Linked DNA regions of Homo sapiens. The protein of the gene in region 1 purifies or fractionates together with the protein of each later gene. This does not show direct contact. Each region holds a gene or a part of one and is shown on either strand. Other genes may lie near its edges.

Region 1 (3,500 bases):
CTCACCTCTCGGGGGATGCGGCCATGGTACCAGGCATGGCTGCGGAGATCCGTGCTGCTGAGTTTGAGCTCCTCCTCCAATTCCTTGTGGAGTTTCTCTGGCGATGAGTCCAGGATGTACTTCTCCTTGGAGAACTGGGTAGAAAACAGCAAGAGTTGGCATCCAACTTAAAGTCTCCTTCTTCTTTCCCTCCCAACTTCATTCTACCATGGATGAACTCCTCCTATCCTGGGACTCTGGGAACACTAAGGCACAGGTGCCAGACCCTTTCCCATGGGTCCCAGAAAGAGTAAAGAAATCTCAATTCCTTCCACAAAACAATGCCAGCTGCATTCCAGGCCCTGTGCTATATGCCAGGGGTGGATGCAGTGATATATAAACCAAGCCCGGCCCTCAAGGCAGTGCCTAGTCTGAGGAGAGGCAAAAGCAACAGGAGCCTCTGAGTAGAGTGCGGTCAGCACCACAGCGCTGGACAGCGGCAAAGAGCCGGGTGGCTTTTACAAGCGGGATTAAGCCTGGGCACGACAGAGGGGTCTCGGAAGCCTTCCTGGAGGAGATGGCAGTAAGAAAACACTCATTATATACCAAGGGCACCAAACTGTTCTTGAAGTGTTGGAGGGGGATTTCTACAGGTGAATCTTGGAGGTAAGGCAGCAGGTAACTGCAGGAAAAGCTATGAACAAAACCACAGAACTGGTTGGACAAGGATACGTTCTGGGATGGTGCATTCTACAATGCAAGGGTGGGGAAGGGACTATAAACAGGGACACGGGGACCCCAAACAGACATCTGCATTGCCCCTTACAATTTCCAAGGCCATTTCTCCCTTGAAATCCTCAGCAATCCTCACCCAGATGGGGAGACCATGGCCCAGCAGGGAAGCCCAAGGCCACTGAGGGAGATAATGTCCAGTACTCCACCCTCCCACCTGGCCCAGAAACTCCTGGTTTCTTGATTACTGTGGCCTGAAGTTGGAGGCTGATGGATCCCAGGGGCCCTAAGGGAAGAGGAAAGGAAGCCCTTAATGCCAGGTGTACGCCCACCAGAGCCCAGCCCAATCCTGGCTGTGCCTTGTGAGCTCTCTGGGCCTCAATTTCTTCCTCATTAAAATGGGTACAGTGACAGAACCTGCCTCACCTCACTGCGAAGATGAAAAGAGACAGCACTCCAGAGTACTACTAGCACATGGACATCCTCATCACTGCGAGGACATGGGATGGTTCTTCCTCTCCTTCCCCCACCTCCAGGCCCCAAAGATGGCTACTCCAAGACAGACAGACCCCAGCGCTGGCCAGAAGGCAGGACAGATGAGGGAGGGCAGTAAAGGGCCTTCATCCCAGGTGAGTCTCTCCCTGGGGCCCCTCGCTCCTGAGAGTCCGAAGGTCCTCCAGTCCACTCCCTGCCTCCTCAGACTATCCACAGATCTCGCCTCCTAATTCTGTGGCTACATCCCTCACCCCTCTGCTCCCATACTGCCTGGGTTTAGCCTAGTCTGCATTGCTCCCAAGACACCATGATTCCCAGTGTCAGAGATATCTAGAATCTCTGATTCCATTCAACATTGACTAGGTCCCTATCCTGGTCCTGTGCCAGGGCTGAGGACCCAAGGTGGCCTCTGCCCTGGGGGAGGCCTTGCAGACACTGACAATCAATTCCAGGTTTCCTGAATGTCCCGAGATGCACAGAGATGGTGCACCACCAAACTAGTCAGGGGGCAGAGTCAGGAATCACTTCCCTGAAAAGGTGGTGTTTCTGCTGAGGTCTGAAGGACTGGGTGAGCCAAGCAAAAGCACCAGGGTGGAGAGGGCAGGTGGACAGGTGGACAGGGAAGAGCTTCTGGGGAGAGAGCGGCAAAGTCAGGGTCCTACGGGCAGAGCCAAGGGGAGGGAGGGGAGATGAATAAGAAGCTTCCAAGGGGCTGTGGGGGCAGGGGCAGGTGTGGCACGGCTGCCTCAGGGAGCTGGGGTTTATCTGGAGGCCACAGCAGAGCCATGGAGGGGTTTGGAAGTGTTGGGGCAGGTTTAGTCCACTTATGGAGAGCAGCCTAGGGTTTTCCAGGCAGTGGCAGGGCAGATAAGGCGTGGGCAGAAGGAGTGGGGGAAAGGGAGTTTAGATGGCCATTGATTCATGTGGGGGAGCAGGGCGGAGGGGTCAGAGAGGACTCCTGGCCGAGATCCTAGAAGGATGATTGGGACATGCTCTGAGTGGGCAAGGCTGGGGCAGGAGCAGCTTGGTGGTGGACCCATGAAAATTTGGACCTTGAGGAGCCTGCAGGGCTCTGGGGACAGATGGTGGGAGTGGGCGGTTTGCACAGGTGCTCAGGAGAAAGGCGGGGCCTGGGAGTGGGAATTCTGCACATCCTCCGGCCGTGGTAGAAACCGATGCCCCCGAAGGGCAGAGAGGCCCAGGGCTGGGCTAGGATCTGGGCCTTCTCAGACACCTACACTTCTCCAAGGGGTCCCCTACTTCTGGGGGTCCCTGGTCTCTCTCCCTCTCACTCTGCGGTGCTCACACCAGGCTAGTCCTCTTTCCTCATATCACACCAAACCCTGGAAAGGGGAGAGTGGGCGTCACAGGGAAAAAGGGAACCAAGACCTCAGCCTTCTGGCGTCCTCCTTGACAAAGGGCATGCGATTGAGACCTTCCCCCAGTTCCACAGCTGGAGCTAGAGGGACGTGGGCAAAGGAGGGAGGAGGCTGGATGTTGAAGAACCGCCCCAAGGCTGCCACTGTGTGACCTTGAGCCAGTCACTTCCCCTCTCTGGGCCTGGGCAGCCTCATCCGTTAAAGGGGCTGGGAGACTGGGCTCCCCTTTTCCAGCTTAATCACTGGTCACGGAGAGTTTGGGGGGACCAACTTGGTCCTCCCACACACCTGAGGGTGAGGAATCCTAGGGTCCCTGTGCCTTGATCTCACCTCGACCTGGGAGCCCCCAGTTCCCTAGAGTTGGGGGTGCTGGGGTGCGAATGCAGCATCCCTGCGCTCGGCGCCCTGCTATTGGCCAGAGATGATCTCACCGCCTCCCGGCCTGCGCGCGCCTGATTGGCCGGTGCGGGGATGCTGCGCTCCGCCGCCGGCGGGGCAGTCCTTCAGGCGGGCTCCGCGAGCGTGTGTGAGCCTGGGGGAGCGAAGAGCCGACGCGCCTGGCATCTCCCAGGGGGCTCAGGGGGCAGGAGCGCGGAGACCCCCGGACAGGGTCTTAACCCCTTCCCGCCAGCCCGAGCCCAGCATCCCCTCCAGCTCCCCTCGGCGTCCCAACCCCAAGCAAAGCCATCCCCAAAGGATGCTCCGCAGAGAGGCGGGGTCCGGGTCCTCCCCTCCACCCCCTTCCGTTTAACCCTCTCACCGCCGCGGCGCCGTCCTGCACTGCCCGGCCAGCTGGGCTGGGAGAGACCCGCGCCCCAGGCATGTCCAAGCCCACCTAGAGGGCGGGAGGGTGGCGGGCGCTCTGGCCCCAACCCTGGCATCCGAAGCATCCCCCGCGTTTCCTGCTCCTCACTC
Region 2 (3,500 bases), on another chromosome or scaffold:
TCTCTTCCATTGACCAACCCTCTGGTGATCAGTTTTTTTCTGATGCTAATGTTCCAGGGATGAGGAGAATTTCTGTGCCACTGTGCCCAAGGATGGACGTTCCTATTCCCCAACTCTCTTTGCACAGACAGTTCGAGTCTTGAAGAAAATAAATAAGCCTGGGAATATGATTATGGCTTTCAGCAACTTGGCAGAGAGAATCAAGGTGAGGAAGAGGAGGAATTGTTTGCTGATTTCATTAAGAACCACGTTGTCAGCCAGGCATGATGGCTCAAGCCTGTAGTCCCAGCTACTTAAGAGCCTAAGGCTAGAGGATCACTTAAGCCCAGGAGTTTGAAGCTGCAGTGTGCTATGATCATGCCTGTGGATAGCCACTACACTCCAGCCTTGGCAAGATAGCAAGACCCCATCTCCTAAAAATCCATGCAAAAAAAATCAGATTGTCACCTCAGCTGTGCTGATTTTTACTCTATTTCAGGGAGAAAAAGAGCATTACCAAGAGAAAATATAAACAGATGGTTCTTTTTGGACAGTCACTTAGAACTACAATATTCTTAGTTTTATTCTTGTCAACATGAGAGTGAGAATAGAAATTTAAGAAATCGGCTGGGTACAGTAGTGGCTCATGCTTGTAATCCCAGCATTTTGGGAAGCCAGGGTGGGCAGATCACTTGAGGTCAGGAGTTCAACACCAGCCTGGCCAGCATGGTGAAACCCTGTCTCTACTAAAAATACAAAAATTAGCTGGGTGTGGTGGCAGGCGCCTGTAATCCCAGCTACTCGGGAGGCTGAGGCAGGAGAATCGCTTGAACCTGGGAGGCGGAGGTTGCAGTGATCGCAACCACTGCACTCCAGCCTGGGCAACAGAGCGAGATTCCATCTCAAAAAAAAAAAAAGAAAAAAGAAATTTAAGGGCCAGGCGCGGTGGCTCACGCCTGTAATCCTAGCACTTTGGGAGGTCGAGGCGGGCAGATCACAAGGTCAGGAGATAGCGACCATCCTGGCTAACACGGTGAAACCCCATCTCTACTAAAAATACAAAAAATTAGCCGGGCGTGGTGGCAGGCACCTGTAGTCCCAGCTACTCAGGAGACTGAGGCAGGAGAATGGCGTGAACCCAGGAAGCAGAGCTTGCAGTGAGCCAAGATAGTGCCACTGCACTCCCGCCTGGGCAAAAGAGCGAGACTCCATCTCAAAAAAGAAAAAAAAAAAAATTTAAGAAACCTCAACTAGAAGAGAAGAATGTGCACATTTATGTAAGATGTTTTTATGAAAACGTTTATGCACAGTGTTACCAATAGATTTTAAAAGCTAGGGTGTTAATGCAGAATAACTTTTTAGAAAAAAAAAAAGATGAGTAGTTTTCAGTCATTAATTTTTATTTGGATTGTCTCTATGTTTGTAGTTGGTAGTTGGCTTTTATTGGAATATGCATACATTTTAAAGATTAAAATACTATATTGTATTTAGCTAAATCCCTTTGGTTAGAGTATGACAGAGCTCTATTAGCAGGTAAGAAGAAGGAAGATCATGGCACAAAAGTCTAATAGAAAACCTTCCTTATTGCTGTCAGTCTTCCCTCTATTGAGTTTCTTTTTTATTGAGTTGGACTTCATCTTTGTTTAGAGCTTAGCCAGGTGGATCCCTGAGGAACTCAAGTTGTGAAGGAATTAAATGTCAAAATGACTTTAAAATTCCTATACCTGTTTGTATCAAAAATCAAAAACTGCTTTTCATACGCAGGCTGCATGAGTGACTCTAATTATGCAAATAATACCCTCCTCCATTCTCCCTTCTCCATCCACTTTTGAATTATGGCATTTACAACAGAACTGTTGCCAGATGGATGTTATATCTGATGTATTTCTTTTCCTCCTAACATTTAAACCCATTTCCAGTATGACTGCCAGCAGCTGAGCCAACCTAAAGGTCCAGAGTTGGGGCTCAATGCTTAATTTGTTCTTAGAATATCTTGGCTTGTTTTTGAGAAAATGAAGCTCACGTGTGTCACTGTCACTGTCAAGGGTTATTAATGACCTGTTTTTTTATTTTTGAGATGGAGTCTTGCTCTGTCATTGAGCACGCTGAATTCAGCTACACTGTGAATTCACTTTAACTACCAGATGTTGTATACTCAGTCTCTTGCAGACCTCCAACAACAGGAAGAGGAAACCTATGCAGATGCCTGTGATGAGTTCCTGGATCCCATTATGAGCACACTGATGTGTGACCCTGTGGTGCTGCCATCTTCCAGAGTCACTGTGGATAGATCCACCATTGCAAGACATTTGCTCAGGTAGGCCAGTCCCAAAAACAGACTCAAGAGCATATATATATATTAGTTTGCTATCTTTTTCTCCCAGGCACCTAAGACAGTACTTTGCACCCAACACATACCACATATTATTGATTTACTGATATGTTGGAAGACATTTTGGTTTCAATTGCTAGGATATAAACATTTCAAAACAAAACATTCTGTTGAGAAATGCTAACTCTAACCTCACCTCTTCCTGCCTTAAGAAAATAATTTCTGGCCGGGTGCAGTGGCTCATGCCTGTAATCCCAGCACTTTGGGAGGCCGAGGCAGGTGGATCACTTGAGGTCAGGAGTTTGAGACCAGCCTGGCCAACATGGTAAAACCCCGTCTCTACTAAAATACAAAAAATTAGAGGGGCATGGTGGTGCGCACATGTAGTCTGAGCTACTCAGGAGGCTGAGGCAGAAGAATTGCTTGAACCCAGGAGGCAGAGGTTGCAATGAGCCGAGATCGCACCACTGCACTCCAGCCTGGGCTCAGGTGATCCTCCTACCTCAGCCTCTGGAGTAACTGGGACTACAGGCATGCACTAACACGCCCAACTAATTTTTGTATTTTTTGTAGAGACAGGGTTTCACCATGTTGCCCAGGCTGGTCTTGAACTCCTGGGTTCAAGCGATCCAACCGCCTCAGCCTCCCAAAGTACTGGGATTACGGGTGTGAGCCACTGTGCCTGGCCTGTTTTTTTATTTTTGCGACAGAGTCTCGCTCTGTCACCAAGGCTAGAGTGCAGTGGCGCGATCTCAGCTCACTGCAAGCTCCGCCTCCCAGGATCAAGTGATTCTTCAGCCTCAGCCTCCCGAATAGCTGAGACTACAGGTGAGCACCACCACATCTGGCTAATTTTTGTATTTGTAATAGAGATGAGGTTTCACCATATTGGCCAGGCTGGTCTTAAACTCCTGATTTCAAGTGATCCTCCCACCTCAGCCTCCCAAAGTGCTGGGATTATAGGCATGAGCCACCTCACCCAGCCTGCTTTTTCTAATTCAGGTTTTACACTATATTCACCATGTGGATTAACTCACGTTCTGTTGCTGTTGTTGTATCAGCTGTGGTAACCATGAACTTTCCCCAGCCTGCCTATTCTTCGGACAGTCTGCCCCATTATAACTATAGAAAAGACAGGAATGAAGCAATAAATGGTAGCTTATTAGCTGCTTAATGGGCCCCTTAACTT

The links. The genes of interacting proteins can lie anywhere in the genome.
Region 2: the proteins of SH2D3C (region 1) and UBE4A purify together in Homo sapiens (affinity purification with mass spectrometry; one large-scale study listed by BioGRID and IntAct). This does not show direct contact.

What each region holds. Positions count from the first base shown.
Region 1 is NC_000009.12:127,751,167-127,754,666, forward strand, and holds part of SH2D3C (SH2 domain-containing protein 3C), read right to left. Parts: intron 135-3,500; coding exon 6-134; intron 1-5. UniProt on the Homo sapiens protein: Acts as an adapter protein that mediates cell signaling pathways involved in cellular functions such as cell adhesion and migration, tissue organization, and the regulation of the immune response.
Region 2 is NC_000011.10:118,390,600-118,394,099, forward strand, and holds part of UBE4A (ubiquitin conjugation factor E4 A), read left to right. Parts: intron 1-57; coding exon 58-205; intron 206-2,138; coding exon 2,139-2,296; intron 2,297-3,500.